Linked DNA regions of Homo sapiens. The protein of the gene in region 1 interacts with the protein of each later gene in a biochemical or structural test. Each region holds a gene or a part of one and is shown in the gene's direction. Other genes may lie near its edges.

Region 1 (6,163 bases):
GGCCTAGTGTAGGGAGTGGCAGTGGGTTTCTGAGGACGGCTTGTGATGGGGTCAGCTGGCATGAGGTCGGTGAGAGAGATGGACAGATCTTCTTATTCCCGGCCAAAGCTGCAGCCCCAAAGGAGGCCCAAGCCCCCAGTCCTGTCCCCACCAGCAGACTTTCAGGGCAGTGTCAATGTGAGGAAAGGGTTAACTCCGGGGAGGCCTCCAGCCTTTGCTTGGTCAGATCAGAGTCCAGTGACGGGGGCCGGTGCCTCCCCCTCCCTCCTCTCAGGTTGTCTTGGAAACTCAGCCTTGCTGGCTCTAGAGAGTAGTGGGTCCCCCTTCAATCCCTGGGCCCCTGCCCTCCCCATCCCCCACCATCACCCTGCCAAGCCTGGCGCCTCCCCCTGCCCAGGCCCGAGCCAAACAGGGCAGGGCTGCTGCACCGGGGCAGGGAGGGGTTAAGCATGCTCTGCTCCTTGGTCTGGACTTTCTCCCTGGGAAGATGGCTCCCTGGAGCGGGCAGGGGTGCTCACTGGGCCATACTGAGGGTGGAACCTCTTGGGACTTTGCAGTGGGTGGGGCCTCCTGGAGACTCAAGGTTGTATGTGTAAAAGGAGATTCACACAAAGGTCCTGCGACTCCCATCGCCAGCTGCAAGGGCCCACTGGGGAGGCCCTGTCCCCTTCTGGCGCAATCCAAGGCCTGAGGCTCCTAGAAGAGGGGATGGCCCCTGGAAGTCCCTAGCTGGCTCTGGGCATGGGAGGTGGGGTACCGCCTTACCCTTATCTCCCAAGTTCATGGAAACCAGGTAACTCAGATAATCCCCTTCTCCACTGAGGGGGAGACTAAGGCCCAGAGAAGCCCCAGCCTTCCTCCTAGGGATCTGATACGAGGAAGACACAGCTGGAATCTGGATTCCACTCAGCTCCTGGGATACTGTCCCCTGCTTCCCCCACCCCTTCACCCTGCAGGTAATTGGCCCCCTCAGACATTCCTCCCTCTTCTGCCTGTCTCTCGGGCTAGAGGGGCTGCAGCCTCTGGCCAAAGGACCTGAAGAGGGAGAGGCCTGGGGACAGTCCCCTCCCCGCAGTCCCTCCAGGATGGCATCCTCACCCTTTCCATAGGGAGGAATGCCCCCCTCTCCGGCTGCCAGGGTTTCACCCTGACCACTGTGAGCTGATGGGGAGGGGACAGTGAGTGACCCTGTGTCCCAGCAGCCTGTCCTTGCCCGGGGAAGGCTGTGGGTGTCAAAAGGGAGGAGAAGATGAGAGTCAGGTATCTCTGGCTGTGTCCTGGACTGGGGACAGGGAAAAGATAACCAGGAATTTTAAGCTAAGAGTTCAGAAGAAGCCCTACACTGACCAGTCCCTGGAGATGGAACAGCCACCCCTGAAGCCATGTGGGACCCCTACCCTGAGTGAGCCCAGTGAAGGTGACCCCAGACCTGTCTTCTCTCCCTCTGACCCCTCCAGGTTTCCCACTGGCTGGGGGAGGGGATACCCAGGACACACCCCTTGAGCCTTCTCGTCCCCCCTCATTTCCTGATTGGCAAATAGGAGTTGGGATTATTTTCTCTTTTTTTCTTTTTCTTTTTCTTTTTTTTGAGATGGAGTCCTGCTCTGTCACCCAGGCTGGAGTGCAGTGGTGCGATCTCGGCTCACAGCAACATCTGCCCCTAGATTCAAGTGATTCTTCTGCCTCAGTCTCCTGAGTAGCCGGGACTACAGCCATGCGCCACCACGCCCAGCAAATTTTTATATTTTTAGTAGAGATGGGGTTTCACTATGTTGGCCAGGATGGTCTCGATCTCTTGACCTTGTGATCCGCCCACCTCGGCCTCCCAAAGTACTGCGATTACAAGTGTGAGCCACCGCGCCTGGCCTTTTTTTTTTTTTTTCCGGACACAGTCTCTGTCACCCAGGCTAGAGTGCAATGGCACAATCTTGGCTCACTGCAACCTCCACCTCCTGGGTTCAAGCAATTCTCCTGCCTCAGCCTCCTGAGTAGCTGGGATTACAGGCGCCTGCCACCATGCCCGGCTAATTTTTGTATTTTTAGTAGGGATAGGGTTTCGCCATGTTGGCCAGGCTGGTCTTGAACTCCTGACCTCAGGTGATCCGCCTGCCACAGTCTCCCAAAGTGCTGGGGTCCCAGTCATGAGCCACCGAGCCCAGACTATTTTCTCTTTCAGTTGAGGCAGGTACTAACTATAGTCTGGGGTGTGGTTCCAATTTTGGTGTCATCATCATCACCTGGGAAGCGTTTGGAAAATGTTGATTCTTAGGCCTGCCCACTAAACCAGAATCTGTGCTGCCAAGGTCCAGGAATCTGTACTTTAACAAGCTTCCCACGTAGGAGTTCCCAGGTAGGAATTCCCAGGTAGGAATTAGGCAGCCATCCTCGAATTTCATCCCCATCTGAGACAATACATTTTTTAAACACCTTGTGACCCATCAGTGCCTCATAAGATCAATTTAGTAGATAGAGACCAGCAGGTTTTTTGGTTTGTTTTTTTTGTTTTGTTTTGTTTTGTTTTGTTTTGCCAGAGTCTTGCTGTGTTGCCCAGGCTGGAGTGTAGTGGCGTGATCTCGGCTCACTGCAACCTCCACCTTCTGGGTTCAAACAATTTTCCCACCTCAGCCTCCCAAGTAGCTAGGATTACAGGCGTGTGCCACCATGCCCAGCTAATTTTCTTTTTGTCTTTTTTAGTAGAGACGGGGTTTCACCATGTTGGCCAGGCTGGTCTCAAACTCCTAACCTCAAGTGATCCAGGTGCCTCGGCCTCCCAAAGTGCTGGGATTACTGGTGTGAGCCACTATGCCTGGCCCAGACATTTTTTTGTTTTTTTTAATGAAATGAAATTAAAAATATCAAAGAACACTGTAGTAAGGGTGTTGCTTTGTGAAACTTTTATCACACAAAATCTTTGTGTGTGCTGAGTCATCAAAATGGCAAACGTAGGCCAGACATTTGCTCACACCTGTAATCCCAACACTTTGGGAGGCCAAGGTGGAAGGATTGCTTGGGGCTAGGAGTTTGAGACCATCCTGCATGACATGGCAAGGCCCCATCTCTATAAAAAAAAAATTTTTTTTAAATAAATAAGGCAAATGTATTCATGGTGGGTGGTAGTCAAAAAAGTTTGAGATGTTGACCCAGGGAACAAGATCTAATAATCTGCCCAAACCCAACTCCTACCTCCTCTCCACGCTCTATTCCATCCCCGTTCTGGACTCACCTCTGCTCTGTCCTTTGCCTAGGTCCCCTGCCTGTGCCCTTCACCAATGGGGAGATACAGAAGGTAAGGGCGGGTCCCCTGTCTCTTTGGATTTCAATCCTTGGGGTGCATGAGACAGATCAGAAGGTGCTGTGGTTGGTAGGATAGCCATCTGACTAAGGCCAAAACCCCAGGGTCCCCAGTTCCAGCTCCTTCTTCAGCTCCAAGCTATAGAACTGCCAGAACCCTCTTGGCCTCTGCCTGGGGCCAAAGCTGTCAGGAGGGAGCGGGCTGGCTGGGCCCCTCTGCAGCCCGCCATCCTGGGTGACAAGCCCCCGCCTCCAACTCCCCACCATACAGAAGGGGCCATTCTTCCCCCCAAGAACAGAGCTTCAGTGTCTGGCCACGGGCAGCCGGGCCCCTGCTACTTCTAGTCTGGGTTGGAAGAACAAAGCCCCTCCTCCCCCCTTCCCTGGGCAGAAGGGAAAGGGGGTGAGGCCCGGGGAAGAGATGGTGGGGCTGGGCGCCAGCTGAAGCCATGGAGGAACCCAGGAAGGGGCTGGGTGCCAAGCTGACGCCCCAGCCAAAGCCTTCGCTCTGGGACAGGCCGACTCAGTCAGGCCACAGAGCAGGAACTCTGCAGGGTCTGCTTAAAGGTTCCCCTTCCCTAGGAGCTCCTGCCAGGGTACTTGGCAAGGGGGAGGGCCCTTGGACCCAGCCCTCAACCTTCTTTCACCTCATCTTTGGATCTAGAACTTTCCATCCACCTTCTTCTTTCAAGGCCCTCCTTTGCTGCTTCAGGGTTAGGGTTTCAGGATTCCTGGGGTCAAATCCTGGCAAACAGTCAGGTGGACCACATGAGATTCAGGGAGCACCACATGGGCTCCCCATGCCCCCATGTGTCCCCACATTCCAAGAAGCCCCTCCCTGGTCACTGGCCCAAAAGGCAAGCCAGTACCTAAAAGCCACATTGGAGTGGCCCAGGGAGAGGGAGCGGTTCAGCTAATCCCATGATGGTCTGTTCCCATCCCATCCCTCCAGCCTGAGCAGTAGAACCAGCCTGCCCTCTGATCCCCAAAGGAATGTAAAAAGGAGCCCCAGCAGGCTCAGGAGGTGGGAACCAGGGGTGGGTGGCCAGGGCATCAGTGCTACCTCTTCTCAGTCTGAGGCCCCTACTTCCCCAGGAGCTCCCTCCCTCCTCAGGACCCCCTCACCCCATCCTCTGACAACCCACAACCCTCTCCTCTCTGCCAGGAGAACAGTCGTGAAGCCCTGGCAGAGGCAGCCTTGGAGAGCCCCAGGCCAGCCCTGGTGAGATCCGCCTCCAGTGACACCAGCGAGGAGGTAGGCCAGCCATGCGGGGGGTGGCAACTGGGTTACAGGAAGCCGATTCCCAGGCCCCACTTGTTCCTGGCACACCAGCCTGCCTTTGAGGTCACATGCTGAGCCGCATTCTGTTCTTGTGACCTGGCTTCCCTGGGCACGGCCCCAACGGAGCCACCTCACCAAGGCTGAGGACCAGGGAGCCTAATGAGGGACTGACTCCCAACTTCCTGCCCCCACTTCTCTTTACAGCTGAATTCCCAAGACAGCCCCCCAAAACAGGACTCCACAGCGCCCTCGTCTACCTCCTCCTCCGACCCCATCCTAGACTTCAACATCTCCCTGGCCATGGCCAAAGAGAGGGCCCACCAGAAACGCAGCAGCAAACGGGCCCCGCAGATGGACTGGAGCAAGAAAAACGAACTCTTCAGCAACCTCTGAGCGCCCTGCTGCCACCCAGTGACTGGCAGGGCCGAGCCAGCATTCCACCCCACCTTTTTCCTTCTCCCCAATTACTCCCCTGAATCAATGTACAAATCAGCACCCACATCCCCTTTCTTGACAAATGATTTTTCTAGAGAACTATGTTCTTCCCTGACTTTAGGGAAGGTGAATGTGTTCCCGTCCTCCCGCAGTCAGAAAGGAGACTCTGCCTCCCTCCTCCTCACTGAGTGCCTCATCCTACCGGGTGTCCCTTTGCCACCCTGCCTGGGACATCGCTGGAACCTGCACCATGCCAGGATCATGGGACCAGGCGAGAGGGCACCCTCCCTTCCTCCCCCATGTGATAAATGGGTCCAGGGCTGATCAAAGAACTCTGACTGCAGAACTGCCGCTCTCAGTGGACAGGGCATCTGTTACCCTGAGACCTGTGGCAGACACGTCTTGTTTTCATTTGATTTTTGTTAAGAGTGCAGTATTGCAGAGTCTAGAGGAATTTTTGTTTCCTTGATTAACATGATTTTCCTGGTTGTTACATCCAGGGCATGGCAGTGGCCTCAGCCTTAAACTTTTGTTCCTACTCCCACCCTCAGCGAACTGGGCAGCACGGGGAGGGTTTGGCTACCCCTGCCCATCCCTGAGCCAGGTACCACCATTGTAAGGAAACACTTTCAGAAATTCAGCTGGTTCCTCCAAACCCTTCAGCCTCCGTGTGTTCCTTGGAAGTTTTGTCCTCTGGCCTTGGACCCCTTATAGGTAGAAATTGAGAAATGGTAAGCCAAGGTGGTCTTTGGCTGGGAGGGTGGGGTACACTGGAGGGAGGGCCATCAAGGGCTCCCTGTGACCCCAAGCCTGGGTAGCTTTAGCTAGAGGGCCTAGCTGCAGTCCTGTAGGAAGGAAGATGCATGCACCCAGCCGGGTATTCAGCTTGGTGTGGTCAGTGTGCCTGTGTGCTGGGCTGCAAGCACCGATTGTGGGCTGGGGACCCCTTGTCTAACGGGGATATTTACAAGGGGAAGTGGGAGCTCAGACCAACGTTCTCAGAGGACTCTGGGAGGTTCCTTTAATTCCAGAAGCGTGGAAAGTGTGTCCCAGGATGGAGCTGGGTTTGGAATGTGAGGACTTGGCTTTACTCTTTCTGCCTATAGCCAGTGGGGTGCAGAATTCCCAGGGGCAGGCTGGGCTGGTGCCAGATCC
Region 2 (7,968 bases), on another chromosome or scaffold:
TGATTTTAAATTATCAGGGTTATTAAGACCTTAAAATTATTTTACCAGGTTTTTACATGTGAGCTGTGACATGACTGGCATTTTCTTTGATTTCAGCGTATGTTGGTCTCTACACATGAAATTTGTGTGACTTAAAACTTTCTCTAAAACTGTACTTTTAGTTATGATATGCATAGAAAGCAGTATCAAATATTGCGTCAAATGACTAATAACACTTAATTTCTAGAGTTGTGGTTTTATTGAGCCAAAAGTTGATATGAAAAAAAGTCAGTAAGGAAAGTCAGTGAAGTGCTTGCTTTTTTGATAATTGCACTCCCAATAATTTTGATATTCCAACGTACTTGGTTTGCTTGTTTTCACGTTAATGTTTTCTGTTTATTGGAGTGGGAAGGCATTAAAATTGTCATTGAAGACTTTGTCTTTGACATGTTGTAGTATTTATTTCAGTAACTAACCTGTGAAAAGTTAAATTCCTTTATGAAAGTAGTGATTGGAGTATTTTTATCTGATAAAGAAAGATTAATAATGAAGCCATTTCTCCGAGGAAAATTGAGGACAATAATTCAGTTTTAAAATATTATCGCAAAATTAAATTATTCTAAAAATTTGTTAGTAGGGTTATATGCTTAATATTAGTCTGAAATATAGTGCTGAATTTGAGACTATAGAAAAATTAAGTGTATTTAGGGTATGTGGAAACGTTAGGCTTCTGTTGTATTTTTATTGTTTGGTAGATTTGCCTCTTTTCAAATAAATGTTCACAGGGAATACTTTTAACTTGTAGAGAGTACAGTGACTATTGAAGTTACCTAAATTACCTCAAGGTAAGTGATTACTGAAATTAATCATGAGGGTTTTAAAAAGTATTCTATTCACAACATTTATTTTACATTGTTTTGTATCTGCTAAGTTATATTTCCTGAAAAACATGACTGGACCACCTAATTGCTGTATGATAACTTACAAACTTCATTTTTCATAGTGCTTATTCAAGTGTAAAGCACAACTGAAAGGAGTAATGTACAGTTTATATGAGGAAAAAGGAATTTTATTGCTGCCAGTGTAAAAGTTTGCACAGCAGTATAGTCATCAATGCAGATTTACATTGCTTATAATATACTAAGTAAATACTAAATGATTAAAGATAATAAAATATGGTGAGGTATAACCACCTTCATTTTAAACTTAGTTTTAGAAGATAGTAAAGAAAGATTCCTTTATTACCTTTTTAGAATTTTATTTTTAATAACATGGGAAAGGCAACTGGTGATATTTTAATTTTTGTATGGAACAGTGCATCTGCTTTCTCATAGCCACATAAAATACATAAACTTCTTAGTGTTATGAAATGGCTTACTTTTTGGAAGTGAAGAAGTCTTCAATTCTTATTTTCTAATGTTATTTTGAAATTTGCCTCCATTTGCTGTTTGTTCATTTGGTGATAGCGCAACACTTAAAAAAATATTTTAAGCCGCTTCTGAAGTAATCACTTCAGTGACTTTTAATGGAGGAGTATTTGTTATGGGAAATTCACTTCACAAAGTTTTAACATTAATTCACTTGAAGTAAACGTGCTATTTTTAAATTTTCATCTCAATCTTTTAAGTAAGACGAAAGCTTAGGAAATCACTTTTATTATTGATATTGTGTGTGACTTCAGAGTTTGTAAAGAGAATTGTAGAAGTGTTGCATGCATATGACAATTTTCTGCTTAATTGAAATGTGAGGCCTCTGCCATACTACAAGGATTTAGCTTCCAGAAAATGTAATATTAACATAGCTTAAGAAATGTATTTTTTTTTTTCTGTAGAAACCGTTGGGTTAAACAAACAGTTCAGAAGTTTTATTACATGGAACCCATTAGTTCTTAATCTTGTTACCTTTTTCTTCATTTTTTCTGTTAAACTTGATTTTCACAGTCAGCATTGAAGAATTCATCTTGTGGCCTGAATTCATTAAGAAAAGATGTTAGGATTTGTTCTGAAGATAGTGACTTAGGAAATTTGTGAGACTGGGGTCAGTCAGTTCTGTTTTACAATTGCTTTCTATTTGGTAGCTTTGAAATTAATTTAGTTGCTTATCAGAGAGAATAATGTTGAGGTTAGACTAACCTTAAATTGGTAAGGCTTTGCTGAGCAAACTGATAACTGTAAGTCTTTTATAGGGTGCATTACTGCCACATATACGTTCTTCCATAGGTGGTTAAAAGTATATTGGTCTGTGTTTGGTGATTCTCTTTGTACATATTGAGTATATGCATTCACTAATGTAAAATAATTTGCCAAGAAAGGTGAAATTAGTATATTGTACTTGACTATTCACCTTTCCCTTAGTTTTTTGAATTTTTTTCATTGGTTGCAGAGGAAGTATTAGCAATTTAATTCTTTTAAAATAATTTGCACTGGAATAAATAAGTATCGGCAAATATAAGAAGAGTAACATAATTTAAGGGTGAATTAATTTTATTTGGGAAGTTTTAGTTCTGTATAGTTAAGGCAGATTCTTCATTTGCAACAGTTGACATTGGGACATGTGTGAACATCTTCAAGGTATTAGGACATCTTCAAGGCATTACTTTTTGGCAGTGTTGAGAATTTTTTTTTTTTTTTTTTTTTTTTTGAGATGGAATCTCGCTCTATCGCCCAGTCTGGGGTGCAGTGGCAGGATCTCGGCTCACTGGAACCTCTGCCTCCCAGGTTCAGGCGATTCTCCTGCCTGAACCTCCCAAGCAGCTGGGATTATAGGTGCATGCCACCACGCCCAGATAGTTTTTGTACTTTTAGTAGAGATGGGGTTTTACCACCTTGGCCAGGCTGGTCTCAAACTCCAGACCTCAAGTGATCCGCCTGCCTCGGCCTCCCAAAATGCTGGGATTACAGGCGTGAGCCACTGCGCCTGGCCAGTGTTGAGAATATTGAGAGATGGATATTGTAGCTGTACCTGCCATCAAAAGAATTTTCTTGACCTCCACATAGTGTGAAAAAGAAGACTGTTTACACATTATATTTTAAGTAATTATACACATAATTATTATCAGTACTCACCACTTCAAATATGAACAGTGAATCTAACCAGTGTTTGATTTCTCTGTGTGTGTATGTGTATACAAAGTTAGCAAACCTTTTATCTTAATATTTATTAAAAAACGAATTTTTGTTTCTTTAAAGAAAAGACTACCTTAGAGAATATTGTTCTATAGTTTTTAAATATGGTCAGATCTATTTTAAATTATGTTAAAATTTTGAGTATTACGTTTATCTATACTTTTAAGCATATATACATTGTTTCATTTTAGATTTTAGGGAGGCAGTGTGGGCTCTGGAGCCAGACTGCTTGTTTTGTAATCCTGGATCTTCCATTTAGTAGCTGGATGACTTTGAGTAGGTTATTTAGATTTTCTCAATCTATTTTATCTGTAAAATGGGGATGATAATGGAACCTACCGCATACGTTTATCTTGAATAGTAAGTGAGATAATAATAAGTAATTTCATTTAGCATAGTACCTGCCACATTGTAAATACTTAAATGGTAGCTACTGCTCTGAAAAACTGTAATTTCAGGTTATGTATGTAGGGAAATTATTTGTATTTTCATTTATGGTGTATGATTGTAACTGAATTTCCTCAGTTTGGGCCATGTTAGGATTTTGTTTCAAGTTATAAGTGTTTTTAAAAATAAGGGTATTCCTTTAGGAAGTCTGGGTATGACATGTCTGTGATTTTGCTGGTTCATCACAAATGGGAAATAAATCTCTGCTAACTCAAACTGTTGACCAAAGTAAAATTAATTATGCCAATCAAAAACTATTTGCTTTAAAATATAAAAGGCAAAAACTTCCTATTAGCATAATGAAGTAGAATTTTTAAACTTTGTTATAATCTTAAATTTTCTTTAGTGTTGAAGATAGGTCAACTTAACTATCATACATTTTTATTCACATAAAGTAAACTCTGCCTCAAATGTAATAAACTTAATATGAGTTATGTAAACTTTGGTCAATAGAGGTATATTTTTTAGCATTTCCTTTTGAAAATTTCAGCCTTTTGAGGGAGTCTTGCAACTGAATGTCAAGTTACATTTATTACAATAAAATGGACACTTAATATAATCTGTAATGCATTAACATAATATGGGAACTTTTAAAGTATTCAGTCTCTGTATTATTGAGTCCTATTTCCACATTTGGCCAGGATTCTCAATATGATTTAGGCCCAAGACGTGGGAAGAAAGAAGTAAAGAACTAAAGGATTTTTTTCTTCATTTTTTTAATTGAATATGGGGAAAGATGGAATAAGCTTATCTGTCCAGTAAAGGCCATTATGTGTACATAGGGATTATTATTTTTCCCCCCCTTGGGCTGTACTGATTTCCCAGATGTACCACAGCACTCTTAGTAGTGAAGCACTTGACTTCTAGTGAGTGGATTTTTTGTGTGTGTGTTTTATATTGCAGAGTGAATACACTCTGTCTGATACTATGTGACTTTCTGATTATGTGATTTTTATGCATTTTATGTGTTTTGTAAACTAGCTGTATTTTTGGTCCATGTCTAGGTTGTAGAATTGAATTGTGCATTTTGGCATCTGAGCACAGCTGAGTTTTCTAAATCAATCTCTCTCCTTGCACCTAGTTTTTGCTTTAGATCACTACCTAAGACTTACTGTTGATTTAATATTAGAGCACTTAAGCATAGCTTTGACTTTTATTTCCTTTGATTTTTGTAGATTTTCAGGCTGAAGTACAATAAGGTTCTCTGTTCTTTACTAGTAATTGCAAAGATTGTATTCTGTGAATTTTATTTGTTTAATACTTTTGATCTTTTGAAGAGGATGTAATTATTTAAGGTATTATGAAATGCATTGTGATTTGAATTAGATACTCTTTGGAGATGGAGTTTTGCTGTTGTTGCCCAGGCTGGAGTGCAATGGTGTGATCTCGGCTCACCACAGCCTCCGCCTCCTGGGTTCAAGCAATTCTCTTGCCGCAGCCTCCCAAGTAGCTGGAATTACAGGCATGCGCCACCACGCCCGGCTAATTTTATATTTTTTTTTTCAGTAGAGATGGGGGGTTTCTCCATGTTGGTCAGGCTGGCCTCGAACTCTTGACCTCAGGTAATCTGCCTGTCTCAGCCTGCTAAAGTGCTGAGATTACAGGCATGAGCCACTGCGCCCGGCCTCAGATACTCTTTTAATTAGATGCGTTTAAAAATTTAACCCACCATTGCTGGCATGAATAGATGTATTTTTAGAGTGATTCATAAATATCGTATACATGTTTAAAGTTACAAACTTTTTGCTTATTTCAAAATGCAGGATTCTTTTCCATTTAAAATTCCCTCTCTTTGTGAGACTTCTTTTTGAGTATTCTGGTTACTCTAAACTGATTGGAGATGAAATTAGATAGAATTGAAAACTGTACTTTTAAAATGAAATTTTGGGGATGTCATTAAGCTTGATTTTTTAGGTTTTTTTTTTAGTGTGTATTATAAATTATTTTACACTGATTGTCAGCGATAAAATGGAATGCCTGGGATTTTTTAAAATTTATTTTATTCATTTTTATAAGGTAAAAACAGTGTTTTGCTAGGCTTAATTTGACCATGTTGTAAAATTTATTGTATACCTTGAAAGAATCATTTATGAAAGATACTGAATTAGCTAATATATACTCTGTCTTATGTAGTTTTTGATTAACAATACACTTTTTAAATCATTAGCTCATTTGATTTTGCAAAGAAGAACAGGTAACCTAAGAGGCAGACAGAACAGGCATTACTTTTATTTTTCTTTCTTTTTTATTTTATTTATTTATTTATTTATTTATTTTTTGCAGCTTAGGAATTGTAGCTCCAGTGGAATCAGTATCTTGTTAATGGCTAGTGAAAGACTGAGTCTGAAGAAGGATGCAGGACTTTTTTGGCACTTGGTGCAGTATTTTTCCCATTATGTTACATGAGTGGTTCTTAAACTTCAGTGTGTTAGAACAACCTGAAGGGCTTATTAAGCTATGGATTGCTTACTCCACCCTCAGAGTTTCTGATTCAGTAGGTCTGGATTGGGACCTGAGAATTTTTATTTCTTAGAAGTTTTCAAGTGATGCTGATGCTGGTGCTCTGGGGATCACACTTTGAGGACCACCAATGAACATTATCTCCCACCAAGCAAACCCTTAACATGTTATACTCCTTTAGGTTATTAGAATTTATACATGCATTATTTCATTTGACCTGTAAACTCTAAGTAACTTTGCATGGAAAATGTTATCCTGATTTTATAGACGAGATAGTGAGTTTAGAAAGGCAGTATGGTGGAATGGAGCATAGATTTGGAGTTGGCTAGACCTAAAGTCCAGATTAAATCTCTGCTCAAGGCTGGGCGTGGTGGCTCATGCCTGTAATCCCAGTGCTTTGGGAGGCCAGCGTTGGCAGATTGCTTGAGTCTGGAAGTTCGAGACCAGTCTGGGCAACATAGGCAGACCCTGTCTCTACAAAAAAAAATACAAAAATTAGTCGGGTGTTATAGTGCGCATTGGTAGTCCCAGCTACTGAGGAGGCTGAGGTGGGATCACCTGAGACTGGGACTTTGAGGCTGCATTGAGCTGTGATTGGGACACTGTACTCCTGCCTGGGTGACAGAGTGAGACCCTCTCTCAAAAATAAATAAATAAATACATCCCCGCTCAGCCACTTATCAGTTACGTAGATACACTGCCTAACCTTAGTGAACCCTGTTTCGACAACTCCAAAATGGGAGTAAAAATCCTAAACTTGTACAGTGGTTTTTTAGTTTTGTTAAAAGTACAGGTGAGGTTTTTTTCAGAGTATTGGTTGCCATCTGAGAGTGATCCCCTTTCACCTCCTCTAGGACTTTTAGCATTTTCTGGAGACATTTTGGTGGTCACAGCTGGGGTGGTAGAGTGTGCTATTGGCTAGGGGCTTGAAGCCAGTGATGCTGCTTAACATCCTATATGGCACAAGACCCCTCCCCATCAACAAAGAATTATCTAGCCCAAAATGCTGTGTAAAATGTCTGGTATATAATAAGTATAATATTTGATGAAAATCAGTACCTTTGCCCCCAGGTGTGATATTTAAGAAGGTCAACTTACTAAATCAGTGATGGAGTTAGTCCTAACATCTGGGTGTTCTGACTGCTGCTAGGCCAGTATTCTTTATATGATAATAAGAACTTTGTCCACAGAAGATATCCCTAATAACAAAAAAGGTTTATTTGAAGAGGACTCATGTGTTCTTTGGCTGATTGTGAAAGTGTTGCTTTGAACTTCTGTTAGAAAAGGTTGAAGATGTTTTCCGTAAGTGTTTTTAATACTGTACGTAGTATTCAGAAGGATGTTTAATTTTTTTTTTAATTTTGCTAGTAGTTTTTAAAGTAATCCTTTTTCCTTTAATTATGTAGTTGTTGAACTGTTGGGAGTTACTTTTCTCTTACTATTTTGTTATTTAATGTATTCTTTGACCTTATGCTTTTTTATTCTAAAGCTGCTTTTATTATAGTCAGATATGATGAAGTTAAATGTACAATGTAAAATTGCAAATTTCCAACGAGCTATACAAACTTAAATATTTCTAAGTAAAGAAAATAGGGCTGACTCTAAGGTTCTTTGATCCATGTGTTGCATTCTTTTCTAGGCCCTAAATTTGCTATGCCAGCCTGTTGAATTAAAGTGCTTTATTTATCTAAATTAGAAACTTGTATTAAAGTGAAGTTTTAGAAAAAAAGAAACAAAATCGGAATGGAGTTTTAGGTTAGCCCAGAGATGGGAAGATGCCAAGAAGGTAGCTTTAGTGGATTCTGAATTTTTTGGTTTTGTTTTGTTTTTAGGGCAGGCAAATGTAATTACAAAAGGGTTCTAGGAATAGATTGCTGTGATTTTTTTTCTGTTTGCATGATTTTACAGTTTGCTTTGCCTCTCACTTTTGAATGCAGAATAAAATGTCAAGGCCTTA

The links. The genes of interacting proteins can lie anywhere in the genome.
Region 2: the proteins of NHERF1 (region 1) and PTEN form a complex in vitro, tested with the Homo sapiens proteins (3 studies listed by BioGRID and IntAct).

Annotation. Positions count from the first base shown.
Region 1 is NC_000017.11:74,763,691-74,769,853, forward strand, and holds the end of NHERF1 (Na(+)/H(+) exchange regulatory cofactor NHE-RF1), read left to right. Parts: intron 1-3,245; coding exon 3,246-3,286; intron 3,287-4,456; coding exon 4,457-4,546; intron 4,547-4,777; coding exon 4,778-4,966; 3' UTR 4,967-5,663; downstream 5,664-6,163. UniProt on the Homo sapiens protein: Scaffold protein that connects plasma membrane proteins with members of the ezrin/moesin/radixin family and thereby helps to link them to the actin cytoskeleton and to regulate their surface expression. Necessary for recycling of internalized ADRB2.
Region 2 is NC_000010.11:87,866,625-87,874,592, forward strand, and holds part of PTEN (phosphatidylinositol 3,4,5-trisphosphate 3-phosphatase and dual-specificity protein phosphatase PTEN), read left to right. Parts: intron 1-7,968. UniProt on the Homo sapiens protein: Dual-specificity protein phosphatase, dephosphorylating tyrosine-, serine- and threonine-phosphorylated proteins.